7 separate regions of the Homo sapiens genome follow, and all the other regions are linked to region 1. Evidence: fine-mapped expression QTL. A gene starts in region 1. Each other region holds a variant in brackets. All regions are shown on one strand. Distances are from middle to middle.

Region 1 (4,000 bases):
AGGAACCAAGGGAGGAAGTGTTCAACCCTGGACCAGTGCTTTAAAGCATCAGCAGAATGTCCCTTACATCAGAGTAATGTGGCATTGGGCAAACCCTAAAGAGCATGGGGCAAACCCTAAAGAATGTGGATAATCAGAAGAATAAAATGTAGGCTATTTGGGCAACCACATTGTCTCACGTGAAGATATTCCTTCCAGAACTGAACTCCTGATGTCTCTGAGTTTTGTTTTACTTAAAGATAAGTCCCTCTTTCCCAGGGGATAGTCTCTGTTTTGGTCTGTCTTCAACTGTATGCAGACTGCAATTTGGGGCTAGCACACAGAAGGCAACATGCTCCTGATCCTTGGGAGTGTGTTCTTGCCGAGTGCACTCAAAAGGAATACAAAGATGAATTATAGGAGATCCGAGTTCCAGAGGGACTGTAAGTTTGTGTAGCTGCTCACAACCAACTTAGCTTAAAGTGGGATGTATGGCTCTCTCTTATTGGTGACTGGGACATTATGCCTTGTCCCTCCAGAGCAGCATTTTATGTGATTCCTTTCTGCTTCTCTAGTGCATCTGTGTCCAATACATGTTTGCTGAATTAATGCATTAGTTGGGACATTTGTAGATTCCCTACAACAATTTACTGCTAGGAGGATTATTTGAACCTAATACATATGCAAATATATATATTTATACTTTTGCAAACATGATATGTATAAGTAGTTCCTAGACCAGTGATTTTCAGACCTTGCTACTCATCAGAATCACCTGAGGAGCCTTCCCAAAACCCCGATTCCTACGTCCCAACCACAAAGATTATTTTAATGAGTCTGAGGTGGAAGCCAGGAATCTACATTTTCAAAAGCTACCCAGGTAATTCTGATATGCAGTCAGCATAGATAACCACAGCCCTTTGACTACCTAAGAAAATGTAGTAGTCAAAAAAAGGTATATGAACTGCCTTCTATTCTTTAGGGAGATTCTATGTTAATATAGCATACGGTCAAGAACACTACCAATGTAGCCACTTCCTAGCTGTTATCTTTAGACAAATTACCTAATCATTCAGAGCTTTAGTTTCTTGATGTGTAAAATAGAGGATATAGGTTTACCATGAGGATTTATGTAAAGCCTTAGCACAGTAGCTGTACTATAGCACACAGTAAATGTTGGCCGGATTTATTCGGCTGTACACATGAGCCACTGGATTTGTCTGGATGCAGAAGTCTACTGCGGTACACCTTCTTCAGCAAGCTCTTGGGAAAGCAGGGGAGATTTCCTGGTACCCTAGGAAGTGGAGGATACTAAAGCCATGTCACAGGGAGGGGCATTATTCTTCGTGCGCGCTTGCTCGCCGGGGTCGGGTTGCTGCTCCGCGCGCGTCCACCAGGGGCCGCTCGAGCTACCTAAGCTCCGTGCGCTACCCGGCGGCGCTCCCGCGCGTGCTCACTCGGAGCAGCGCGCGCCCCGCAATCGCCGCAGCCGCCCCCGCCGTCGGCCGCCGCACCCCAAGCGACTGCCCAAACTAAGCCTCCGTGGCTGGGTACGGGAGCGCTTTGGGGACAAAAATTCTCCCTCAACTGTGGTCTGCATTCCTTCGGCCCGTGGGCTGATCTGGGGCGGGAAGTATTAGCGTCTCAGTTGCGCTGCAGCCGGGGAGGAAGGAGGAGGCCGAGCCTGGGGCGGAGTTTGGGCTGACTGGGGCTGGACCGGGCAAGACGCCGCCGCTGCCCGGATGTTGCGATGGCTGATCGGGGGAGGCCGAGAACCGCAGGGACTGGCCGAGGTAAACCCCGGGTGGGTCTGCTCTGCGTCCGTCGAGCTTGCTGGAGGGGCGGCTTCGTTCCGGTTCGGCCTTCCTGGGTTCCGACCGCGGGGACCCGGGCGGAGGCGGGGCTGGCTGCTGAGCTCGTGCCACGCGCTGTTCTCACGACGGTGGGGGCGGAGGGCGCGGGAGCCGGAGCTCCTCAGACCCGGCGGGACCCCAGGCGCACCCTGGAGCTGCAGACCCCCGGCCCCGTCCCACGGCTAGCTGAATCGTGAGATCCTGGCTCAGGGACGCTCAGCTGGTCAGCAGTCCTATTGGGACCTGTGACAACTTAGGGCTTCTGGCTACCGAAACTATCTTCATTTCCACTTAAAAAGTATACGATTTAGCTAGAAACGAACGAGTTGTGACCGCAGCTTTCCACTTTTGGTTTATTTGAATTGGTGTCTCTTCCTGGCGTCTACTGATACTTGGTCAGGGAATATAAAATTAATTTACTTATCCAACAACCGAAAAAGGATATAATTATTTTTAAAAAGTAATCTGCTTCAAGGTCAAGAACATGATTTTCTAATTAACTGCTGTTTTTGGTTTCATAGTCACACTTTCTTCATGGGCCCGAATAATTGAATAGACCGTGTGTAATGAAATTTACATTTGAAATGTGAATAAAATAATTTTTGCAGTCTTGGAAATTTTGAGGTCCCAAATTTATTTCGTATGCCACACAAGAACTTTCATGCGCGTCCGTGTGAAGAGACCACCAAACAGGCTTTGTGTGAGCAATAAAAGCTTTTAATCACCTGGGTGCAGGCGGGCTGAGTCCGAAAAGAGAGTCAGCGAAGGGAGATAGGGGTGGGGCCGTTTTATAGGATTTGGGTAGGTAAAGGAAAATTACAGTCAAAGGGGAGTTGTTCTCTGGCGGGCAGGAGTGGGGCAAGGTGCTCAGGGGAGCTTTTTGAGCCAGGATGAGCCAGGAAAAGGACTTTTACAAGGTAATGTCATCACTTAAGGCGAGGACCGGCCATTTTCACTTTTGTGGTGGAATGTCATCAGTTAAGGCGGGGCAGGGCATTTTCACTTCTTTTGTGATTCTTCAGTTATTTCAGGCCATCTGGGCGTATATGTGCAAGTCACCGGGGATGCGATGGCTTAGCTTGGGCTCAGAGGCCTGACAAGAACAGAATTTGTGAATTGCATTTTATTTCTCATAAGAAGTATTTGTTTAGATTGTTAAAAGTAAGAAATTGGATTGTTGAGAGTAGGCAGTCTTCTCAATTTTAACTTCCGCATGTCTTTGCAGTTGACGGTATTGTCTGTTTTTAAAAATTTCTTATTTCAGATTAATCCTAAATCCTTGAGATTGTGGATTATTGAATAGCCATATATGGTATATACGACATTTTGGATAATTCTGTTTTAACCTGGTTCTTTGGTTAATCATGTTATTTGCTTAACCAGGTCTCCCATTCCTGGCAAGTTTTCATTGGAGGAGAAGCAGTTTATATAGTTTTCAAATTTCTCACCACAATCTCTTCTAGAAGGAAGACAGAATAAATACAAAATCAATGCTTTGTGGTGGTGGTTTTTTTTTTGGAAAACATTTATGCATGTTTTAAATTTATATATTTCTTCATATAAATCTAATTGAGTTGTATAACTGCTGTGAATTTGTACATTATCGGAACCTATGATTGTCCCTAATTTATGCAATAACTTTGTATCCAGGCTTCTCGTTTAAGCAGTGGTTCTCAACTGGGGTGATTTTTGCCCCGCAGGAGACATTTGGCAATGTCTGGAGACATTTTTGATTGTCATGCCTTGCAGAGGGGCAGTTCTATTGGCATCTAATGTGTATAGACCAGGGATGCTGCTCAATGTCCTGTAATGCACAGGACAGTTCTCAACAACAAAGAATTATCTGGGCTGGGCGCGGTGGCTTACTCCTGTAATCCCAGCACTTTGGGAGGCCGAGGCGGGCGAATCACTTGAGGTCAGGAATTCAAGACCAGTCTCGCCAACGTGGTGAAAACCTGTCTCTACTAAAAATACAAAAATTAGTTGGGCGTGTGGTGCGAAAAAAAAAAATTCTCTAGCCCAAAATGTCAGCATCAAGTTTGAGAAATCCAGAGTTGATTTCATGCCTTCATTTATTCATTTAGCAAGCATGTATTGAGTGCTTGTAATGGATGAGGCACTGTTTCACTATTTTATGTCTTTGATTTGCAGTTTTGTTTCTGCCACAT
Region 2 (4,591 bases), 65 kb after region 1:
CAAGATTTATCAATTAAGTTCACTGTCTTATACGGGCATGGTTTGCAGTACCCTAAAACAATTACAGTAGTAACAAAGATCACTGATCACAGACCACCATGACAGATACAAGAATAAAAACATTTGAAATACTCTAAGAGTTACCAAAATGTGACACTTACACAAAGTGAGCCCATGCTGGGAAAATGCCCCGATAGACTTGCTCTATGCAGGGTGGCCACAAGCCCTCAATTTGTAGAAAAGGCAGTATCTTTGAAGCACAATGAAGCAGAATGCAATAAAATGAGGTATACTTGTATTCTAATTTTCTGCCATGAAAAACTGTCTAGAGGGCAGTCTCCAACCCTAGGGACTAGATTGCTTTTGTTTTCATGCATGCCCTAAGGTCACAGAGATGGGGGATAACAGTATGATGGGAGATTCTGGTAGGGACTCAAACCTGATGGTGTTCAGTAGTTGCAGGTAGACTGCTGCTAAAAGTTGGACTTTCAATTTAGAATAAAATAATGGGTCAATGTATATTATGTACATTTTCTCCATTTCCTGAGTTTAGCTTTCAACAGTTAAGATACTTGCAACAGCAGAAGTAACACTACATAGTGTTACAGTGTACAAATCCCTTGTCATTTTTATTTTAAAATATATTTATTACCTCAGTCTCTGGCTATATTCACATAGCGCAAGGGCACAAGATCATCCCTTCTGTTTCTCTCTCTAAAGCTGAGTAGGTTCTGAGTGAACTGACAGGCTTGTTTTTTTTTTGCCCAGAATGCTAACCAGTCCTGACATGGAGGGCAAGTAAATTTAAAAATCTTAAATTAGAAATAAAGAATGATCTTAGGAAATTATAGGGTCATTCTGGTCCAGCAGTGTTTTATAACTGGCTTCCTTCTCTTACTAGTCACGGAAATTATTAGAGAGTGTTGCATTTTCCTAATACGGCCCTCCTCAGCACATGACATTTAAGTAAACAACTCTGTGTAAGAGGCAGTTATAATAGTTTATATAATATAAACTATCTGATACACATATCATCTGAAAGCCTGTATTTCTAACAAGTTGACTATGTGGAAGAATAGACTAGTTCGCAGGCCAGAAGATTATACCGTAGATTACACTGGTAAAGAGCAGAAATTGTTGACGCTTTAGTACCTAGCTGTCTTAAAGCATTTTTAAACATTTGCACATTACTAATAAAAAGTTTGAAGTTAACAAGAAATTTGACATAAAACTGAGTAAGCTGTAAATATTTCATATAGAAGATGTCTGACACCTGATAAATGTTACTTACCAAATAGAACTGAAAGTGAGATGATCAGAAAAAGATTGTCCTTGCCTCAAGCAAGCTTCTGAAGCCTAGGCAAGTTAGCTAGGTCCTTAATATGGGATTCTGGCATCCTGATTTTAATGTGCTCTGAAAACAAAGTGTGTGACTCATGAAATAAAGGACACTAAACCCCAAATTTGAAATTATGAAAACTTTAGGCCAAAGAGGTAAAATAAAAACAGCTGTTGGGAGTGAAAAATGGCTGTAGGAATTTAGTTACAAGTACTTCACAAAAACATTTTCATCACATTTACATAATATAGCATTACAATACAAAGCTGGCTGCTGTCCTGACCAAGCAAGTTCTCTTATCATCTAACAAAAATAATTTAGATACATTTCTTTGCATGGAATTGTCATATTTTTCCATTTTTGGTACAAAACATAGAAAAAAACATTGGCACATTATGTAGTGATAAGTCATTTTTTCCCCATGTACAAGTTCCAAGTATTCTGCATTCCAATTTGTATTGGAAAAAAGTAATTACTGATTCAATTAATTCAGTCTCTGTTTGTTTATACCTTTTAAAAATGCAGCATGAAGTACAGAGAAAGAAAAATGAAGTTTGTTTACGGAGTCTAATATTTATAATACATAGGAAGGATCAGCTGGTAAAAGAGAAAGGAAAATCTCGAGTCTGACTTTATGTAGATCACAGGGAGTTGTGAAAAGAGCAGTATAAAAATATGCACTTGTGCTTTAGAAGCTTTTAGCATACAATTAATAGCTTAAAATAGTATTTACTGCCTCCCCATATGCCTATTTTCTGATATATTTACACCACACAATTTTAACATTGTTAAAGCTAATGGCATGATTTCAAATATAGACTGGTTAAAAATATCTGAACCTTGAAACTTCCCCTATCCCCTCCCAAAATATTACGTATAGATGGTGCATGGCACAACATACTGCATGGGCTTACACCCAGAAAATTTGGATTTTAATAAAAATTTTAAACATGTATATAAACTTTTTTTTTTTTTTTTTAAGAAAAGCTTGTCCAAGGGCATTCAAATTTAATGGCTTTTATATAATACTTGGTGTAGTGCCTCGTGGCTGCCTCTGTGAGCCAGAAATAAAGGAAGCTCATGGATTCCCCAAAAATGAAATGCCACTTTTTCCCTCATCATGGATGACTTTGTTAAGATGAACCCCTTTTACAGGAAAGGGGTTACACAGGCTGCTGATACCAGTCTAGAGAGGGCACCCACCAGCCAAGGCTGTGTTCTAACTTAGGTGTCATACCATCGGCCAGAAGAACCATGTAGCCATAGAGGCTGTGAAGCTAACTAGTTTATCTGTAATTTGGTCCTAGTTGTTTCACTTATTTTATGTCGTTTTTTTTTTTTCTTAGATAAATCTGTTCAGATAAGCTCCTTATGAATCCTTCAGATCGA[T/C]GTTCTTGAGGAAAACAGTCAAGCTAAACAGCAATGATGACTTTTATGGTAAAGGATGAGCTGATCACTAGCTAAGCTACTTAGTCACCATCCTGGGAGATGAGCTCACAGGCACCAAGGCTTTGCTTCCTGTGGCCTGCTAGTTACAGTGAACCAGCTCCATGGATTGACAAGGGTACACAGGATGACAGCAGAGCAAAGGAGTTTGCCAAGTATTTGTTCTGTCATTAAGTATTCAAAAGAACATATATTTTTCTTCATGGAACATAACTTTCTAAGAATGAAATTTGGGGACTTGAATGATTCAAGGTCAAATATTAAACATTAGCTCCTTCACCAATACCTGTCATTGTCATTAGAAAGGAAGGCCTCTCGTTTACGCTACTGTGATTCACAGTGTCCTTTGTCGGTCAAGAGGCCCCCTCTGTGGCTTGGCTTTAGCTGTCAGATGGAAGCCTCAAACTTTTGCACTTTAGGTCATCTAGTGTCTTCCAGTGTTTGTAGTTGTCAGCCAAATGTTGCATCAGGGCTGGCAGATGTGCAAAGGCTGCAAAGACAGAAAAGAATCAAAAGAAACCGGTGAACTTAGACCCCAGGAGCATTTATAAGCCTGGGGGTGTCTGGGACAAGTTTGGGATCAGAATTAGAGGAGGCACACCCTGGGCGAAGCATGAGGACAAGTCATTAAACACTAGTTTCTGAAATGCAAACAGGTCCTTTTTGAAAAGCTGCTTATCAGTGACATTATCAGAAGAACCTGTGATTCAGAGTAAACTAAATACATTTTGCATTCTTTCTAGAGTTTTCCTCCAACGACAGAAAAACACTGCAGTAAGCTTTGGCAGCGTGTCCTTTGAAGAGGCAGAGACTCGTTTATCCAGCTATCAAAAATCCATCAAGTCTTCTGCACACAAGCTTCTGTGCCAGCTGCTGGGGATGCAAAGAATGCACCCCACCCCACTTGGCCACAAAAAGCTGACAGCCACATTTTTAAAAATATATTTTGTTTACCTTTAGGCTCACCCTGTGTCACTAAAGATAATATTCGTAAAGTATAACAATTTTCTTTGGGTGACAAAACAGTAACTGTCTTACCATCCCAAGCATCAAACATGTCTGTTATGAAGTAGTCAATGAAAGAGATCTGAGACTTGGGGATGCTACAGGTATTCCGGTCAAACACTGGCATCACCACAGGTAGTCCCTGTCTCTTCTCTTCATCAGTCTGTAAGAAAAAACCACCACATAGGGCTGGAGGACATGCGAGACACTTTCACAGTAATATCCTGTTTCTCAGAACAACCCTGTGAAAATGGGTCATTATCCAGTTTTCTCAATGAAGAAATAGGCTCAGCAAGGTCCTCAGACTTACGTAAGTCAGCTGAGCTACACTGACTACACTCAGACCTTCCCACTCTCAAGCCTCTTTTTTTGTTTTTGAGACAGTGTCTCACTCTGTTGCCCAAGCTGTAGTACAGTGGTGCAGTCTCGGTTCACTGCAACCTCCGCCTCCCAGGTTCAAGCAATTCTTCTGCCTCAGCCTCCTGAGTAGCTGGGAATACAGGCACCTGTCACCACGTCCAGCTAATTTTTAGTAGAGAAGGGGTTTCACCATATTGGCCAAGCCAGTCTTGAACTCCTGACCTCAGATGATCTGCCTCCCTTGGCCTCCCAAAGTGCTGGGATTATAGGCACGAGCCACTGTGCCTGGCCCCAAGCCTCTTTCTATGTGATACCATAGCATCTCCTGACACATTGATCTCAGGGTACTTAGCCCCTTTTCTGGGATCTGCTTTTATCATTGCAAAGTCAAAGCTCTGTTCAATGTCATACAAACACAAATTCTCATACCAAAACTACTGA
Region 3 (4,000 bases), 66 kb before region 1:
TTATATATAATGCTGACATATAACAAATTATAGATATGTTATGTATACATCAACATTATATTTATATAACAACATTATATAAAAATCATGTCCATATATTGAATTCTGTCATCTACTAATTGTTGTACTGGATTGGGTAGTACATTACCACCAGTACGGTCTAATTAGTGCCTTGCTAAAGCAGCTTCAAGAATTTTGCCAGCCTGTTGTTAAACACAGTAATTATTAACAATCAAATTATATAAACTTGTAATTTAAAATTTATATTAATGTAATAACTGCTCAAAAACATCACTTTCTAATTATGGTGCTGCATTTTAACATCTATACTCTTAAGATTATTTACATCTATCTTTTGTATCTGTGTGGTACATTTCTCCCCAACTCGACATTTAGTGATATCAAATTGGTAGCTTGAAATTGGCCACAGTGGGAGTGTTTACATGACAGAAATTGGCAAATGCTACAAATCAAGTCAAGGCTATTTCCCTCTCTATATAGCTGGTTGTTAACTATTTACCAGCGTACCACTGTCTTTAATACACACAGAGCAACTCAATACATGTGTCTGTTATTTATTCTTGAGCTCTCCTAAAAGAGTAATAACAGCTTTCATAGACCCTTTTACAAGAAGTGAAATGTATATTTGATTCCCTAAGGAATCTTAGCCCACAATTTCTTGTTAAGCTTTAAAAATTAAGGTTTTTTTCCCTTAGTGTAATAGATAATTTGGAAAATACAGAAAAAAAATATTTTTTCAATGACTTTATTATTTTGAAAGGATGAAAGTAATCACATATTCATAATTTTCTAAACAATTCATGTCTTGCATATTGGTTTATCAGACAACTTATTGCTGAGTTTAAGAGACTGCCAAACAATGCTAAGATTAGAAAGTGCTGGAAAATTAGTTTGTGGAATGAACTCACTGCAATAACATAAATAGTAGAAACATGTCAAGGACCATGTTTGTTAGAAATAAACTTATTTCTCTATGCAGAAGACTTATTAATCATATCTCAGGATGTTTAATAGCGTAAACAAATGGAAAACTTCAGCTTGTGATCCAAGGTCGTTTTCAAATTGGAAATGACCTCAGCCTGCCCCAAGAGGGCTAATGATGTAAAAATAAGTAGGGCCCAGTCCTCTGGGGAATTCGGTGCAGGTCAGCGAGGCTCTTTTGGTGAATGCGGCAATCTGCTCTGCCTCCATAGGCCTTTGTGTAGCCAGACTCCCTGGGAAAGGTGGGCTGTCTGCTGTTGCCTGGCACATATGTAAGAATATTCTTTTTCAATTTCCTTTTCTATTTTTCTTAGATTTTTACTCATGCACAAGGAAAAGCTCATAAGACACTAAAAATGTCACAATGGTAAATTTTCCTTTCCTAAACAGAAAGAGAATTCAAGAGCAATGATTTTTCTTTATACAAATTGTTTTTTAAAGTTAAATATTAATTTAAAATATATTAACATTTGAAGAATCGCATTTTAACGATTACCTACATACCTACTCCTGTTTTGTTTTTTTTTTTTTTTTTTTTTTAAAAAGAACATTTGAAGTTCCCTATGTGTTCATTTCTTCCCTCCCTACTTAAAGGTAATCATTACACTGACGTGGGGTTTTTATTTGCTTGTTCTTACTCACTGCATTGCCACATTTTTTCTTCTAAACAATATGTTGTTTAATTTTGCATGTTTTTGGCCTTTATATAAAGATAATCATACCGTATACATTCTTTTGTAACTTCATTGCTTCTACTATAAGTCATTACTTTTAACTCTCACCTAATAGTCCATTGTATGAATATGCCACAGTTTATTCATTCTACTGTTGGTAAACATTTGGGCTGTTTTCATTGTTCTCTATTATGAATAGTGTCACTATACTCTGAGTATTACTACACATGTATTTTGGTGTATATGTGCAAGAGTTTCTGTAGGTACGTGCCTAGGAGTGGAATTGCATGCCTTCAAATCCACTAAGCAATTAATGCCAGACTGCTTTTTCAAAGCGACTATACTGATTCCTACTGCCATGAGAAGTGTACAAGTGTTCTAGTGGCTCACGCTAACATTTAATATTGTCAGAATTTTTAATTTTTGCAAGCTTTACAGATGTGAAATGTCATCTTACTGTGAGCATCTTTTATCTTTTTATACTTTTGGTTACTTCTGCCACCTCTTTGTGAAATGCTTGCTCAAGTCTTCTGTCCATTCTCTATTGGATTGTGTGTGTTTCTCTGGTGACTTATAGTAGGTCTTTGTATATTCTGGGTACAATTTTGGGGGCTCA[T/C]TTTTAGGGTGTAACAAATCACTTCTCCCAGAGTGTGGTTTACTTATTTATTCTCTTAATGGTTTTTTGTTTTGTTTTGCTTTTAAACAGAAGTTTTTAACTTTAATATACTAGAGTTAAATTTATCACTTTTTCTTTATGGTTAGTACTTTCTGTGCTATGTCTAGTAAATCTTTCACTACCTTGAGATCATAAAGATATTCTTCAATTTTGTCTTTTAAAAGTTTCATACTTTTGCTTTTAATATAACTCCTAATCCACAAGGAATTTTTTGTTTATGTGTGTAAAAGGGATCTGTAATAAATAATCTAATTCCATTTTTGATGTTTGACTACCAACAGCTTTCAGGCTCCACCCCTCCCCCTTTCCCTCTTGCCCAGCATCTGGCAAAGCTGATTAGAAACCCCAGGTGCCCCCTCCCTTGGTGCCAAGGAGAAGTTCAAATCATCCCTCATACTGGCCCTATCACTGACCACATTAAAAATCAAAGACCCTTTTCTCTCCCTCCCTCAAGCCATTTAGAACTGGCTTGGATGCCTGTCCTGTTCTGACCAGAAAGCCTCATTGTGTGTAATAAACTTTTAAAATACCTTCTTGTTGTAAATGTGGTATCAACAATCTTGATATCTGAACCAGTTTTGGATGGGGGCATTGAGCTCACCTTTCATGGGGCAACCACAAAAATAAGACCCAATTTCACTTTTTTCCCCACATGAATAACCAGCTGTCTTAGTGATATTAAATTTAAAACTCCACAAACAATACAGAAATTAGCTGGGTGTGGTGGCGCGTGCCTGTAATCCCAGCTACTTGGGGGCTACACGTAGGAGAATTGCTTGAACCCAGGAGGCAGAGGTTGCAATGAGCCGACATCATGCCACTGCACTCTGGCCTGCGCAGTAGAGCGAGACTCCACCTCAAAACAAACAAACAGTCAGTCAGTCGGGTGCAACGGCTCACGCCTGTAATCCCAGCGCTTTGGGAGGCCAAGGTGGGTGGATTACTTGAGGTCAGGAGTTCTAGACCAGCCTAGCCAACATGGTGAAACCCCATGTCTACTAAAAATACAAAAATTAGCTGGGCGTGGTGGCATGGGCCTATAATCCCAGCTATTTCGGCAGGCTGAGGCAGGAGAATTGCTTGAACCCGGGAGTCGGAGGTTGCAGCGGGCCGAGATCGCACCACTGCACTTCAGCCTGGCAACAGAGAGAGACTCCATCTCAAAAAAAAAAAAAAAAAAAAAAAAAAAGTCCATCTTTTCCCCACCACCTTTGTCAAAAATCAAACCTGTTTCTGGGTTCTGGGTTCTCTGTTTTCAACTGTTGGTTATTTTTGCTATTTCTGTGCAAATGCCACTGTGTTAATTGCTCCAGCTTTATAAAACACCTGATATCTGGTAAGGCAAGTCTCTTCCTTCTGTTTTTCTTCTTCAGTAGTGTTTAATTCTTGGCTCTTTTCTTTCCATATGAATTTTAGAATCAGCTTGTTAGTTTCCACAAAGAAACCTTGTTAGGATTTTGATTGAAATAGTATTGAATCTTTACATCTTTATGAATTTGTCTTCCAATCCATGAGGATAAGATTTATACTTCATTTATTTAGTCTTTTTATCTCTTTCAATAAAATTTTATAATTTCTTCATAAGGATCTTACCCATTGTTTGTTAGATTCATTTCTAGGCACTTTATATTTTCGGATGCTGTTGTAA
Region 4 (4,000 bases), 100 kb before region 1:
TGTAAAGACAGGCAAAATTAAGGATGGTCTTACAGTGGTAAAATGGAGTCATTTTGTTTTTTATGAGACTGAATGATGGAATTTGACCAATAGGTTATGGCATTAAGCCCACAGCCAGTACTTAGAAAACAACAGAGGTAATAGTTAAGAAACGTCTGGATTCCCAAATTTCATAAAATAGCATCATATTGCTCAGGACCACTGGCATTTAAAGAAAAAAATAAACATTCCACAAAATTGTCTATTTTCTAGTTAAACTGATGTTCCATAACTGTATCTGAAAAGCTAAGTTGTAATTTTGAGGACGCCACGGATGAAAGAGAAAAAAAAATTACTACCACTAGTAACAGATGTGAAATTACATTAGATAAATATAATCATTAGTTTCAGTCTCACCCTGGTTAATTTGTTTGTGGAAATGTGCAACCCATTATTCATTAGATAATTTTGCACACATTGATTAGAAAGCCATGTCGAATTGTGACCCTGCACATTTGGGCTTACCTATCTTGCAATGAAGTATAACCACTTACAATAGTGGAAATGCGGGACAAAATGTTTATCTCAAGCTGATTTTGTGCCAATAAACAAAGTAAATCAATAGCCAGTGAAGTGTGAACAACATTTCTCTGCTGTATAATGTGGTTTTGGGGGCAATTTGACATGCTACAAGGGGAAACAAGGGTCTTGAACAGAAGGGTAATAAAAGCAAATCATGCTGGTAACTGTTACTGGAGTCCTGCATTTTTCTATACTTGGGCAGCTTTAAGACGTGAAAAATAACGTACATAAAATTATAAAAATATTGAGGCAACTCTCCCCCATATTCATAAACATTCTTATAGTTGAACTTGATCTTATTGGTCACGCACTCTATACCTGTGACAAATCTTTTCTATTTTCTGTTTGATCTAATTTAGTACACAGATTCAAATACCTTTAAAGACTTTATAGCAAATGAAGCACGAAGAAGACCTTAAATTTCAAATCGATTTTGTTAGCAGTCAGTAAGATCTCATCTGAATTTTACTTTTCAATATTCAGATAGCTACTTACAGTAATCAGAAGGCTCTCAAATTAAAAAATGTTTTCTCTCCTCTGTAAAAAGCTTTGGGGATAAACCCTCGTTTCCTCATCTTTCACCTTTCTTACTATTTCAGACCCTGCAGAACCACAGACGTCTTCTTTATCCAAGCCCATGAATCTATTTTCTAATGCTCTGAAGGAGAATAGTGATATAAATGCATTTATAAAGTGTATCTTCTTGTCAGTTGGAACCTCAGATGTTGTCTTTTAAATTAAGATGAAAGTAACACATTTTTCCGCATAATGCAGGCTGCATTCAAATAATTAATGGTTAATTAAAAACAGCTTTTTTTCCCCTGTAGCTCAGACAGTGAAGGGCTCTGTTACGTTACCATAGAAAGGAGAAGGTTGGGCTGTTTGGTTTCTAGAAGTAGACTTCTAGCCTGTTGATCTAAAATCATAGCCAGGGAAACCTGCAGATTCAAAGAAGAAATGGTTACTGGTGTCATAGAAACAGTATTTTGCTGCCCAAGCATGTTATTTCCTTGATAAATTCTGTATACCATTGTTAGAAATTTTAAAAATCATGGATCACAGACATTTTTATAATGTATGCCAAGATGTATTTAATTATTTATTTTCTTTTTTTATTTCTTTTTTATTTTTTATATATACATTTTTTATTATACTCTAAGTTCTAGGGTACATGTGCACAATGTGCAGGTTTGTTACATATGTATACATGTGCTATGTTGGTG[T/C]GCTGCACCCATTAACTCGTCATTTACATTAGGTATATCTCCTAATGCTATCCCTCCCCCCTCCCCCCACCCCACAACAGGCCCCGGTGTGTGATGTTCCCCTTCCTGTGTCCAAGTGTTCTCATTGTTCAATTCCCACCTGTGAGTGAGAACATGCGGTGTTTGGTTTTTTGTCCTTGCGATAGTTTGCTGAGAATGATGGTTTCCAGCTTCATCCATGTCCCTACAAAGGACATGAACTCATCATTTATTTTCAATGACTTGATTTATGTGAAGACTCCTGAAAATTATATCTATCTATGTATCTATCATCTATCTATCTACGTATCTATCTCTTATTTTGAGGTAGTCCTGCCCCCTTTCTTATTTGGACAGGGCTTCAGTCTACTATAGATTAATTTTAAAAATCTAGATTTAAGAAGATTTAATATAACTTATGAATAAAATAGACTTTCTGTTAGCTCTAATTGTCTGTTTGAATGCCAATTAGCAGGAGTATAAGCACTTATGAAATCTAACATAAAAGAGAGACCATGGGTGAAATAGAATGAGCATTAGACTGAAAATCAGATCTGTATTCTAGGCCTTGCTCCATCACTTAAGTCACGTAATCCTTCTGTTCCTGGTGGGTTAGGTGCATTCTAAGTCTCTTCCAGCTTTAATATTCTATGCCTATAATATTTTTATAAACTAGCACCATATTATACATGGATGAATGAACTTTGTGACTCAGATAATAGTTTATTTTTATAACTGCTTTGTTTACATTTACTATATTATAAACATTTTCTTGTGTTCTTATGTATTATTTTATATTATTTATAATGACTGTATCATATTCCATTATATGGATTTACTGTAATTCATTTAATCATTCTCCTGTTGCTGGACACAATCAAAGCTACCATCATCTGTCTTTTGTAATGCTGCCATAGTTTATTACTTGGTTTCCTCTTTTCCACTCTTGCTGCTTATAGTCTATAATTTCTGTAACCAAATAAATCTCACTCTCTTTCCCTCTCTCTCTCTCTGTCTCTGCCTCTGTCACTCATGGCAATTCAGATACAACATTCCTCTGCTGAAAACTCTCCAAAGGCTCTGATCATCCTTAGAGTAAAATACAAAGTCATTACTTTGTATTGTGTAATCTGGCACCTGCCTACCTCTGGAACCTTATTTCTAATACTCTCTGCCTCACTGCACTCTACCCACTGTTCTCCTGGCTGTTTTTCAACTCTCTGAGCATGTCCCCACCTCAGGGCTTTTGCTCCTGGTGTTTCCTCTGCCTGGGACTCTCTTCTTTCTGATATTCATGTGATTTGTTCTTTCAATTCCTTTAGGTCCCTTACCTGGGAATGTGGGTCATGACAGTTAGTTTATTGCTAGCAATGTGATTTATGGTGAACACCTGTTTTTGTTCACCTGTGGCCCTGGCCATACCACATTAGTTTGACCTCTGAGGTGGAGGGACTGGAAACTGATTAGCTAAGGTCAATCACAAGGGTTCTCCATACCTATGTGACTGACTCTCCAATAAAAACACTGGACAACAAGGCTCAGGTGAGCTTCTCTGTTTTTTCTCATGTTAGCAGTACTTTGCATGCATTGAAAACATCATTGCTGGGAGAATTAAGTGGTGTTATTCCAACTACACTGAAAGAGGAATCCTGGTTTCCTCTTTTCCAAACTGAAAGATTGATCCTGGTTTCTCTTGGACACCTCTGTTGCCCTTTTCTTTTGCTGATTTTAATTTGTATACTTTTGCAGTCATAAACTGTAATGGTGAGTATAACAGCTTTTCCAAGTTCTGAGTTCTTCTAAGGAATCATCAAACCTGAGGGTGGTCTGGAGATCTGCCGACACAAATAATAAGTCCACAGACAGAGAAATTTGAATAATAATAAATTCTTGACTATCTAAAACAAGGCAAGAAAGAAAAATAAGGAACAAAGAACAAATAACACAAGTAGGAAATATAAATTAATATGGGAGATTTAGACCCAGATATTATCATAGTTACACTAAATGTAAGTTGAATAAATAATTGAAAGATAAACTATCAGACTCAATTTAAAAAAATCTAACTATATGCTGCTTATAGTGCCATACCTTAAGTACAGGGACATGAAAGACTGAAAATAAAAGGATAAGGAAAGATATTTCAAGTAAATGTAATACACAAGAAACCTGGTGACAGTAATACCAGATAAAGTAGA
Region 5 (4,000 bases), 41 kb after region 1:
AATTTAGTTACTAATAGGAGCTAGCTTAGCTCCACGTAGATATTTTAAAGTATCAGAAACATAATGACTTAGGAAAACTAAATCCATACATTGCTAGGGTTTACAATTTAACCACTCAGTTCAACATTTGATTACTAATAGTCTTGCTCAAATCTAGAATATATTTCCCTGTTTACTATTATCATGAATTATGTGTCTTTATGTTCATTTTTCTCTCTCTTTCACTAGCCTGTGGTTTTCATGAATTTTATTTTGGTAAAGTTATATTGTAAAATGTTGAAATTGGGGCTGAAAAGAATCTTCTGTGTGTTCCTGGAAATAGCCACCTCTTATTGCAGTCTCCCTTTGTTTTGCAAGTTATGTTTAAGTACTATATATTAAATCATTACAATACTGCCATTTATCAGTGTCTCAAGAGTTAACAGAAGGCTTTGAGGGTATCTATGGGAAAGCCTTGAGAAGGCCATGGGTTACTATTGGTGAGCTGTTCATCATTTGGGTTTTCCAAATTACTGGAGGCCAGATTGTTAATAGTGTTATTAGATCCTTATGTCATGATGTCCTTTCATAAGCCCTGCTTGATTTATGGACTGGTGGAGCTTTTACAAGCAGTTATTCTGTGTTTGGAAATAAGCAAAGACAATCTTAGTCAATGTGATACAATGGAAGGAGCCCTGGACTAAAACACAGGGCATCCGTGTCCTTTCCAGTAATATGTTTTGTGATTCTGAGTATTAGGTTGCTACATCTGGATTGTTGGGCTTCTAGTATTTTCACATATAATTTAGTGAAAGATTTTTAAACAAGCTGTTTTCTGCATTTAGAATTCTTCTCTTGCTATCCACCCTGCTGTTCTCCCATGTCCTCTGCCTTCTCTGTACCATTCCTTTGCCTTCCTTGCAGCACCATTTCCTCCTTCTTGTACATGGGAAAATACAAAACCTACTGTTAAAATATGCCTATGTGGAGAAAAATCTTGGCCAGAAATACTATCCAAATCACAACAGTCAGTCCTTTGATGGATGGGAAGGATAAGCAAATGACTAGACCGTTTTCTACACTTGCATATATATTATAAATTACATATATATCATAATGGAAAAATTAAACAGGTTTTTTTTTTTGCCAACACGTGGTGGTTCTAATTTATCAACTCTTTTATTCATACTGACAGAAGCAAAATTGTAACATGCCTTGTAGAAGTTATAGTTACGCTAAAATCATTAACCTCTTTACTTAAATAAGTGAAGTGTGTTAGAATGTTGAATCTGATTCTTTCATTAATAGAAGAAAAATTTTACATGTATTAGTGGATCACAAACATGCTATTTGAAGGCTGCTTTCTTAGCTGCTGACTGTTGGCTAGTTCATTCAATGCCAGGGAGCCTGCTCAGGCTTCTAAAGTTTACATGAAGGAAAACCCCAATTTTACATCACTTTTGAGCTAGCCATCTTGTAAATGGGTGATGGTGATTATCTTAAGGGATCCCTGGTAAATAAGTGTGAATTGCTGAATCTACCACTTTATCACAATAGTAAAAAAAAGTACAAAAAAACCCAACCCCATATTCTGCTCTTAATAAATCAATAATGTCTTCCAAAAGTCTCAGAAACCTACATTTAACAATCATTTTCCATTAGTAAGCAAGCAAGGAAGTGTGTGTGGAGCTAGTTCTGTGTGCTTTATCTTCTTTATGGAAAACGACTGACATAAAACTGAGAATGTTTTTGTTTTTGATATAATCTGTGAGAAAAATAATTTGAACTTTGTTTTATATGTTTTTGGAGGTATTAGTGCTTTGGTTGAAATACCTAAGAACTGTGTTGTGGCAGCAGTTGGCAAAGAACTGAGTGAGTATGAATTTTTTTCTTTTTGTGTATTTTGAACGAGAATTGTATACACATGCTGGAAGGACTAAAGTAATTTTTTATTTAAGGGACATTGCGTGTGCCCCACTCTTGGCTTCTTGGGATTGTTGAAGTGATACAGAGACTAAGACATTTTCAGGATGTTAGGCCAGGTTTCTTTTTCTTATCAGTGTTTTAATCAGTATGTTAGCTTGGTTAAACAGTTTATTGCTTGTTATTCCAAAATTCCAGTCTCAAGATCACTTCATAATATTCCAACTAAAGTAGAATTTCCCATAAGTTCAATGTGTATCAGAAAGAGTTCTCTTTTCTATTGACTGAAAAACCTTCTTTTGACAACCACAGTTTGAATATGAGTAGCTGTCAGGATTAAATAACCTGGATAGAGATTTGTAGTTTGGTAAAATATTGTCAGAGACACAGAAAGAAGCATGGCATGACCTATCTTCTAGAGAGAAATGTGAGAAAGAAAAGATACTTTCGTAATTTGAAAAGGACATGATCTCAGAGACTTGTCACTTCTCAGATGTTAGTGATGCTAATCTTTGAGCATCCACAGCACCTGGTCCAGTGGTGTATTTTTAAAACACTCAGTACATTGA[C/T]GGTAAGCCTGTTTATAAACAAGTCTCTCTCCCACTCTAGACTGAGCATTTGTGACTGGGCCTTATTCACATTTGGTACGTAGAGTTCCTGGAACATAAATGTTTAGTAAATGATGATAGAATCACGTCTGTGGATTTTATTATGGGTTTTCTGTATTGATTAAAGTTAGGATTTATACTAGTTTAAATAAAACTGTATTTGTTAAAGTCAGATAATGAGTAAAGCAACACATTGAACATTACTATAGTCAGAAGAACTGTATGATATATAAACATTATAAGACATACTCAGAGAATTTATAATTTAATGGTATATGCCTAGGAATCAGAAGCTTTTTAAAAAAGAAGTTGCTTATGTCTTCACTGAGTTGAAGTTAAACTTGGATTTGCAGCTTATTCTGTCGCAATGCTTACATGAGTAAGAGACATGAGTAGAGAAAGCTGATGTTGGAGGTGATTGAGGGATGTGGGCTAGTCACTGATTAGGGAGGGAGTGAGTTGAGATAACAAGACATCCGTTGAAACCCTAGAGAGAATGGGAGCTTCACTGTTTGGAAAAGTCAGTAAAGGAAGAGAGTTCTTCAGGACACATTCAGTATGGGTTTTAGTAGATCATCTCAAACATCTCAAGCATTTGAAAGAAATAGTTTAAAGTAGTATGAATAAGGCTTTTTTTTGGAGATGGGTTTTTCAGTATGGTAGGTATTTTTCACTTAATGAAATGCTTGTTTTTAGAGCAGGAGTAGTATTTTATCCTCTTAGAGCATTGTAATAAAATTTTATCTGTCTTTTTCATTTAGTAATTTTCAGGTTGGTAGCACCCACAGAAGGATCACTAGAATGGGATATTCTTGAAGTTAAGCGCCTCCTTGATCACCAGGATAATATTCTCTCATTGATTAATGTCAATGGTAAGCTCATTGTGTACATTTATTATGTACAGTTTTGTGCTTGTTAACACAACCTGCTCTGAACACGAGCCTTGCTTAGTTCTGGGATTCTAGAATAAGTCACTAAAATAATGGGATTGTCATTCTCTTTTACTCTGAAGTTTTAGCCGGTGGAGCTGAGCAAGTTTCCTAGATTGCTAGGTCTAAGATTTAGGGACAAGGAAAATAGTGTAAGGCAGAGAAAATAGAGGAGAACATAATGATCTCAGGCACTGCTTGGTAGCTGTGGGATGACTGTCACAGGCTGTTTCAGCATTTTTGGCAGCTGTTTCTGGCTAGTTCCTCTTTTGTAGAGAGATTGGAAATATGCCCTTTTGTCTTGCTGTCCACACCATACAATATCACATAGCAAGTTACACACTTACACTAGAATGAGCAGGATTCAAGCCAGTTGTAATCCTGGTTGAAGACTCTCAAAGAATAATACCAAACTAAAGTAAAAGTCTGCAGAAAATGGGTCATGTCTTCCCTTCCTTCCTCGTGGTGGGGGTTTTGACCTGCTGTACATCCTATTTGGCTTCCTAAATGATTTTAATGAGTATCTCCTGTGAGCTAAATCTGACATCAGATGGCAAGATC
Region 6 (4,000 bases), 29 kb after region 1:
TTATTTTTACATTTCTAGCAGTTTATTCTTTGTAAACTTATAAATGTCTTATTTATCTTTTGATCTTCCATACCTGGTACAGAAGCTGGAATGTGTTTCATAAATATTTTTTAAATTAGCTGAAATAACTTGATCTTCGTTAATATTAGTCAAAATACCACTAATAAGGTTTGATAGTTCTTAATCTTAGTAATTAAATGTCACCAGTGATTTTTTTTTCTTGACCCTTTCTCCCTAACCAGATTTGCATCTGCTGGTGATGATGGAATTGTAGTTGTGTGGAATGCCCAGGTGTGTATTGATTATGTGTGGATTGTGTGATAAAGATATGATGATGTAGTTGAGTATGTATTCATATAAATACTATCTGGGGATACATTTACATATCACTGTTAATTGACACATTAATATTTGAAAAGAGCTAATTAGGATAAATCCATATACAGTGGGGACCAGTATTTCATAATGAAGAGGGAAAGTTTTTTTAAATTGAGATTTTTTTTCCAGCTGGGTGTGGTGGCTCGTGCCTGTAATCCCAGGACTTTGGGAGGCCAAGGCGAACGGATAACTTGGGGCCAGGAGTTTGAGAACAGCTTGGCCAACATAGCAAGACCCCGTCTCTACTAAAAATACTAGAAATCAGCTGGGCATAGTGGCACATGCCTGTAATCCCAGTTACTCGGGAGACTGAGGTTGCAGTGAGCCGAGAACATGCCACTGCACTCCAGCCTGGGTGACACAGCAAGACTGTCTCAAAAAAAAAAAAAAAAAAAAAAAGTTTTTTCCTAAGAAACAAATGCCAAAGTATGAAAATTCAAAAAATACAAAATTTTAATCTTATTTAACAAAATTTAGGTTATCACTAGCTATGCCCTGACTTCCAAAATGAATAAATGAATTGTGTTGATTTTTGTGAGACACACAAGTTTTCTTTCAACATTGCGTAATAGCATAATGTAACATTTTTCTCATGTTTGACTTAATATTACAAAAGCCTTTTTTTTTTAAATAAATACTTAAGGCTTCACCAGTTTCTTCAGAGCCTCCCTTCCTGATCATTTGTTACTCAAATTATTCTTTTTTGAAGTATCTTCCTCTCACCTTAATTTTGGATTGTTATCTAGTCTGACTGTGTCAGATCTTTATTTTTCAATGGCTTTGCCTGTGATAAAATCAGTTCTTTAACATTATTTTCACCACATTCACGAAGTCCTGCAATCTTGGAAAGATTTGCCATTTACATTGTATTTTTGCATGTTTACTACTTGGTAAATTAGTCAGAGACTGATGGATGAAGACACTGGATGGGTAGGAATAGATGTTGGTGTTAAATAACGATGGAGTGGAGACTGACTTTCTAAGTGGTTAATAAATGAGTGGATATATATACTTATTTGTGTGTAGGTACATATACAGTTGTTATGGTGACTTTTATTTTCTTCTATGACCTTATAACTGTGGAGACTTAAATAACAAATACTTGGACAATGAGGACTCCATATTTTTTTCCTGCAAACTAAGTTACTGATGTTTTTATGCTTAATTTACACAATTATATTTTTAAATTTATAGAAAAAAATACTCAAAATTTTCTATAAAAATATACTAAAAATTAGCATTTTGTTTTAGAAAATAAAACTATAGTTATGGCTGTACTTTCAGTGCTTGTTTAGATTCTGTGTGATTGCTTAAGTTAAATTCTGAATAAGTAATTTTAAATGGAATGTATATGTATCTTCTATATGGTAGTTGTACTTAATGTAGTCATTTATGATTATCTAAATTGTGAAAGCTAAGCCTATTAACATTTTTATTGGTATTTCAGACAGGGGAAAAACTTTTAGAACTGAATGGACACACTCAAAAGATAACAGCTATTATTACATTTCCTTCCTTGGAATCTTGTGAAGAGAAAAATCAACTCATCTTGACAGCCTCTGCTGATAGAACAGTTATTGTATCCTTTAATCTGGAAGAAATGAACAAGCTGTAGTGGCCTAAGGAGCCACTACATACACTATTAGTCTTTAGCTGATAGGGTCTTGTCTGTATATTCTTGTTATAGCAAAAATGATTTTTGTTCTGTTACTTATAAGATACCATTTATTAGGTATCTGAAAAGTATTAGACTGGAAATAGGAGGTTAAGGCTTGTTATTGATGGAAACTCCGTGACTATTGCTGTTCTTTCCAGAGTTACTCTATCAGGTTGTATAAAATTGATGAAATGGGAAAATGTGGACTTAAAAATAATTTATTTTACTATCTCAGTTTGCTTTTCAATTTAGGGAAACAACGATGAGTTGGACTGGAGAATAATTTACATT[T/C]TTTTTCCCCACTATACAGCAGAAGAAACCAAATGGTCCCAACCCATAAAAATCTTTGGAGCATCTGAGTCTGATAGAAAAGTGAATTACTGTTTGTTCAGTGTGTAATATTTAATAATTAAAAACAATTTTATAAAAGTAAAATTACTTTTTCTTTACCCATACTTTTAGGTAAAAAGTTAAGATGGGATAGCAGTAGTAAAGTGCTTATGTGTAACAGGCATTGTTCTAATTGTTTTACATATATTAACTCATTTAATCTTTAAAATTAGCCCTTTGACATAGGTATTTTTAATTCTTTTTTTTTTTTTTTTTTGAGACGGAGTTTCACTCTTATTGCCCAGGCTGGAGTGCAATGGCGTGATCTTTACTCACTGCAACCTCTGCCTCCTGGGTTCAAGCGATTCTCCTGCTTCAGACTCCCGAGTAGCTGGGATTACAGGCCTGTGCCACCACGCCCAGCTAATTTTGTATTTTTAGTAGAGATGGGGTTTCACTCTGTTGGTCAGGCTGGTCTCGAACTCCTGACCTTAGGTGATCCACCCACCCTGGCCTCCCACAATGCTGGGATTATAGGCATGAGCCACTGCGCCCGGCCTTATTTTTAATTATTCTTATTTACAGATGAAAAAAATAGAGTCACACAGAGGCTAAGTAACTTTCCCAAGGCACACAGCCAGTGTAGGGCAGAACTGGCAAGTCTGACTGCAGAGTCAGAGCCCCGAACCACTGCACTTCATAAAATGTTTTCTGTAAACAAACTCAGCCCTTTAATATCTGTATGAGGAATTGGCTTGGTGAAGTCCAGAGTCAAGTGCTATGGATAACTGTTGTCTTTCATTACTTTTATTTTTTTAAAAGAGGTTGTCAGATTAATTTTTTTTTTTTTTTAGACAGAATCTCACTGTTGCCCAAGCTGGAGTGCAGTAGCACAATCTCGGCTCACTGCAGCCTCCACCTCCCAGGTTCAAGTGATTCTTCTGCCTCAGCCACCCAAGTAGCTGGGACTACAGGCGCCTGCCACCACGTCCGGCTAATTTTTTTGTATTTTTAGTAGAGACGGGGTTTCACCATATTGGCCAGGCTGGCCTCGAACTCCTGACTTCGTGATCTGCCCGCCTTGGCATCCCAAAGTGCTGGGATTACTGGCATGAGCCACTGTTTCCGGTCATATTAATTTTTAAAAGTATATGCTTATCTGAAAGTTCTGTGTAAACACTTTCAAGCATTGGTGAAGTTTTGGAGTAAGCCCAAAAGTATAGGTGTTTCTTAGGCTCTTACAGAACCAAGATACAGACTTGAACATGCTTTAAATGAGTTCATCAACTGAAGTGCTTTCTAGACAGATTGTTCATAGCTGAAAAAATGTCAAGAAAAGGTTTAAATGGGGATAAACTCTCTATACATACATACATATATACATACACACATATATGTATGTTTGTGTGTGATTATGATACAATGTAAACAAGGGCATAAAATTCTCTCAGATGGTTAGGTCAGAGTTGCTTTATTACTACTCTGTAGAGGCAAATATGGGATAAAGCTCTCTTTTTCAGTATCAGTGTAATCTTTGCAAAAATAGAATTTAAAATACTCTATTAGACCACTCCTAAGACACTATAGCAATATTTTGAGGCAGTGATTAAAATTACATACAGAAGTTAGTAGCTG
Region 7 (4,000 bases), 60 kb before region 1:
TTATTTGGGTTTTTATGTTAAAATAACTTTCATTCCTCTGGCATAAATGTCCAGAAGTGCAATTATTGGGTTGTATGGTAGTTGCAAGTTTAACATTTTAAACAACTGTTAAACTCTTTTCCAGAGTGGCTTACCATTTTACATTCCCACCAGTAATGTATGAGTGAACCAGTTTCTCTGCATCCTTGCCAGCATTTGGTGGTGTTATTTTTTAAAATCTTAGTCATGTTGATATGTGTGTAGTGGTATCTCATTGTAGTTTTAATTTAAAGTTTCCTAACAGCTTATGATATTGAATATCTTTTCATGTGCTTATTTTTATCATCTTTGGTAAATGTCTGTTTATGTCTTTTGTTCATTTAATAGATTTTTTTAATGTTGAGTTTTGAGAGTTCTTTACATATTCTAGAATTTAAAATGTGTAAGTTCTTTGCTAGATATTTGGTGCTATGATTTGAAAGATGGCATTCCCTCCAAAATTCATGTGTTGAAACTTAATCCCCATTATGATGGTATTGAGAGGTGGGGTCTTTTGGGGAAGTGATTAAATCAGGGGGATTCTGCTCTCATGAATGAATTGGTGCCTAGCTGGAGGGAACTAGCTTAGGCCCTTTTTGCCCTTTACATCCCTTCAGCTATTTGAGAACACAGCATTTGTCCCCTCAAGAGGATGCAGCAACAGGGCTCCATCTTGGTTGAAAGTGGAGATGGGGGCCTCACCAGATACCAAATGCTGGTGATTAAATCTTGGACTTCCCATCCTCCAGAGCTGTGAAAAATAAATGTCTGTTCTTTATAAATTACCCAGTTTGAGGTATTTTGTTATAGCAGCAAAAAAGGACTAAGGCATATGACTTGCAAATATTTTCTCCTGAGTGTGTAGTTTTCCTTTTCATCCTCTTTATATGGCTTTCACAGAACAAACATTTCTAATTTCAGGGAGGTCCAATTCATCAGTTTTTCTTTTTATGGATCATGCAGTTGGTGTCAAGTCTGGCAACTACTGGCTTAGCGCCAGATCCTGACAACTTTCTTCCATGTGTTTTGCTGAAAGTCTTATAGGTTTGTTTTACATTTAAGCCTGTGATCCAATTTAAGCTCATTTTTTATATAAAGCATGAAATTTAGATCTAGGGTTTTTTTCCCCATATGGATATGCAATTGTTCCAGCATCATTTGTTGAAAAGGTTATTCCTCCTCCTTTAAATTGGTTTTGCACCTTTGTCAAGTCAGTGTGGCAGACTGTGTGAATCTATTTCTGGGTATCCTGTGCTGCTCCGTTGATTCATGTGTCTACCCCTCTGCCCACACCACACTCTCTTGATTACAGTAATTATATAGCCAGGCTTAATATGGGTAGAGTAGTTTCTCCCATTTCTTTGTCTTTCTTCTCTATCAAGATTGCTCTAGCTATTCAGGGCCTGTGCCTTTTCATATATATTTTAGCATAAGCTTGCCTCGGTCTATGAAAAAAATATTGCTGGGATTTTGATAGGAGTTACACTAAACTATAGACCAATTTGGGGAGAATTGACAGCATTACTAAACTGAGTCTTCCAGTTCATAAACATGATATATCTCTTCATTTATTTAAGTCTTCTTTGACTTTCACAAAATCAGCATTTTGTAATTTGTAGCATATAGATCTTGCACATGTTAAGTAAATGCATAAGTATTTCATTTTCCTTGGAGTTATTGTAAATTGCCCTGTGTTTTTAATGTCAGCTTCCGCATGTTCACTGTTACTATAATTGATTTTTATGTGTCTTTATATTTATTTAAATTACTAATATATTTAGATTTATTTTGACAATTTTATTTAGTGGTTTGTATTTGCCCTACCTTTTCTATGGTCTTTCTTGTCCTCCCCTGCATCAATTGCATTTTTTTTCTCATTCAATTTTTCCCCTACTAGTTAGGAGATTTTATTTTATTTTATTTTATTTTATTTTATTTTATTTTATTTTATTTTATTTTATTTTATTTTATTTTATTTTATTTTATTTTTTGAGACAGAGTCTTGCTCTGTTGCCCAGGCTGGAGTGCAGTGGCACGATCTCGGCTCGCTGCAACCTCCGCCTCCCTAGTTCAAGCGATTCTCATGCCTCTAGCCTCCCAAGTAGCTGGGATTACAGGCTCGTGCCACCACACCCAGTTAGTTTTTGTATTTTTAGTAGAGAAGGGGTTTCACCATGTTGGCCAGGCTGGTCTCAAACTCCTGACCTCAGGTGATCCACCCACCTCGGCCTCCCAAAGTGCTGGTACTACAGTCAACAGCCACCTCGCCCAGGCTTTATTTTTTTATTTTTTGAG[T/G]CAGAGTCTCACTCTGTCACCCAGGCTGGAGTGCAGTGGTGCAATCTCAGCTCACTTCAGCCTCTACCTCCTGGGTTCAAGCAATTCTCATTCCTCAGCCTCCCAAGTAGCTGGGATTACAGGTGAGCACCACCACACCAGGCTAATTCTTGTGTTTTTAGTAGCGACAGGGTTTCGCTATGTTGGCCGGGCTGGCCTCAAACTCCTGACCTCAGGTGATCTTCCTGCCTCAGCCTCCCAAAGTGCTGGGATTACAGGCATGAGCCACCACACCCAGCTAGTAAGGAAATTTTATGCTATATTATTTTTACTTTGTTAGTCATTCTAAAATTAGCTTTTGAATATCATTTATCAAAATCTAACATGAATTAATATTTTTGCCCCCTTCTTAAACATACAAAATCCTTAGGACATTTTATTTTATTTTATTCTTTCTTTCTGAAATTTTATTTTATAATTTCAGATTTTATTTTCAATTCACAGGGTACTGTGCAGGATTGTTACGTGAGTACATAGCATGATGCTGAGGTTTCGGGTACAAATGATCCTGTCACCCAGGTAGTGAGCCTAGTACTCAATAGCCTAGTACTTTTCAGCCCTTACTCCCCTCTCTCTCTCCTTCCTCTAGGAGGCCCCAGTGTCTATTGTTCCCGTTTTTATGTCATGTTTACCCAATGCTTAGCTCCCACTTATAAGTGAGAACCTGTGGTATTTGGTTTTCTGTTCCTGCATTAATTTGCTTAGGTAAGGACATGACTTTATTCCTTTATATGGCTGCATAGTATTCCATGGTATACATGTACTATATTTTCTTTATGCAGGCCAACATTGATGGGCATCTAGATTGACTCCATGTCTTTGCTATTATGAGTAGTGCTGTGATGAACATATGAGTACATGTGTCTTTTTGGTAGAATGATTTATTTGTCTTTGGTTATAATTCAGTAATGGGATTTCTGGGTCAAATGGCAGTTCTGTTTTCAGTTTTATGTGAAATCTCCAAACTGCATTCCACAGTGATTAAACTAATTCGTACATTCCCACCAACAGTGTATAAGCATTCTCTTTTCTCCACAGGCTTGCCAGCATCTGTTATTTTTGGCTTTTTAACAATAGCCATTTTGACTAGTGTCAGATGGTATCTCATCATGGATTTGATTTGCATTTCTCTGTTGAGCATTTTCCCATTATGTTTGTTGGCCACTTTTTTGTCTTCTTTTGGGAAGTGTCTGTTCATGTCTTTTGCCTATCTTTTAAAGGGAATGTTTGGTTTTTTGCTGGTTGAATTGTTGAAGTTACTTATGGATTCTGGATATTAGACCTTTGTTGGATGAATAGTTTGCAAATATTTTCTCCCATTTTGTAAGTTGTCTATTAAATCTGTTGATCATTTTTTTTGCTGTGCCGAAACTATTTAGTTTAATGAGATCACACTTGTCAATTTTTGTTTATGCTGCAATTACTTTTGAGAATTTAGTCACAAATTCTTTCCCAAGGCCAATGTCCAGAATGGTATTTCCTGGGTTTTCTTTGAGGATTCTTATAGTTTGAGGTCTTAGATTTCAATCTTTAATCCACCTTGAGTTAATTTTTATATATGGTGAAATGTCGAGGTCCTTTTTTTTTCTTCTGGTTATGGCTAGCCAGCTATCTCAGCACCATTTGCTGAATACAGTCCTTTATCCAT

Alleles and levels. Positions count from the first base shown, and alleles are read on the strand shown. Sizes are in standard deviations (SD) of each study's normalised expression. Not every link is listed here.
For the expression in testis of the gene that starts at base 1,626 in region 1, T is the low allele of the variant in region 3 and C is the other (moderate effect, 0.70 SD a copy in GTEx).

The links. PIP is the estimated chance that this variant, and not a neighbour inherited with it, causes the effect.
Region 2: its variant is fine-mapped to the expression of WDR41 in esophagus mucosa (GTEx, PIP above 0.99). The same link has a PIP of 0.9 or more in fibroblasts, lung, nasal epithelium, pancreas, stomach and sun-exposed skin.
Region 3: its variant is fine-mapped to the expression of WDR41 in testis (GTEx, PIP above 0.99).
Region 4: its variant is fine-mapped to the expression of WDR41 in anterior cingulate cortex (GTEx, PIP 0.96).
Region 5: its variant is fine-mapped to the expression of WDR41 in whole blood (TOPMed, PIP 0.99).
Region 6: its variant is fine-mapped to the expression of WDR41 in whole blood (INTERVAL, PIP above 0.99).
Region 7: its variant is fine-mapped to the expression of WDR41 in whole blood (INTERVAL, PIP above 0.99). The same link has a PIP of 0.9 or more in anterior cingulate cortex, fibroblasts, lymphoblastoid cells, tibial nerve and vagina.

What each region holds. Positions count from the first base shown.
Region 1 is chr5:77,489,942-77,493,941 of GRCh38, reverse strand. WDR41 (WD repeat domain 41) reads left to right here and starts at 1,626. Exons shown (of 13, transcript NM_018268.4): 1 at 1,626-1,772. The coding sequence starts at 1,722. RefSeq lists silencers at 1,321-1,460, 1,901-2,120 and an enhancer at 1,241-2,164.
Region 2 is chr5:77,425,129-77,429,719 of GRCh38, reverse strand. It overlaps PDE8B (phosphodiesterase 8B), which reads right to left. Exons shown (of 22, transcript NM_003719.5): 21 at 3,824-3,953; 22 at 1,464-3,275. The coding sequence ends at 3,166. Among named protein-coding and RNA genes, the nearest start is that of WDR41, 65 kb to the left of the region's middle. The variant T/C (reference allele first, on the strand shown) is at 2,729.
Region 3 is chr5:77,555,637-77,559,636 of GRCh38, reverse strand. It overlaps a transcript of WDR41 not described here. Among named protein-coding and RNA genes, the nearest start is that of WDR41, 65 kb to the right of the region's middle. The variant T/C (reference allele first, on the strand shown) is at 2,293.
Region 4 is chr5:77,592,123-77,596,122 of GRCh38, reverse strand. It overlaps a transcript of WDR41 not described here. Among named protein-coding and RNA genes, the nearest start is that of OTP-AS1, 36 kb to the left of the region's middle. The variant T/C (reference allele first, on the strand shown) is at 1,785.
Region 5 is chr5:77,449,142-77,453,141 of GRCh38, reverse strand. WDR41 (WD repeat domain 41) reads left to right here. Exons shown (of 13, transcript NM_018268.4): 7 at 1,789-1,851; 8 at 3,272-3,382. Among named protein-coding and RNA genes, the nearest start is that of WDR41, 41 kb to the left of the region's middle. The variant C/T (reference allele first, on the strand shown) is at 2,472.
Region 6 is chr5:77,461,052-77,465,051 of GRCh38, reverse strand. It overlaps WDR41 (WD repeat domain 41), which reads left to right. Exons shown (of 13, transcript NM_018268.4): 3 at 243-291; 4 at 1,826-1,957. Among named protein-coding and RNA genes, the nearest start is that of WDR41, 29 kb to the left of the region's middle. The variant T/C (reference allele first, on the strand shown) is at 2,327.
Region 7 is chr5:77,549,988-77,553,987 of GRCh38, reverse strand. It overlaps a transcript of WDR41 not described here. Among named protein-coding and RNA genes, the nearest start is that of WDR41, 60 kb to the right of the region's middle. The variant T/G (reference allele first, on the strand shown) is at 2,314.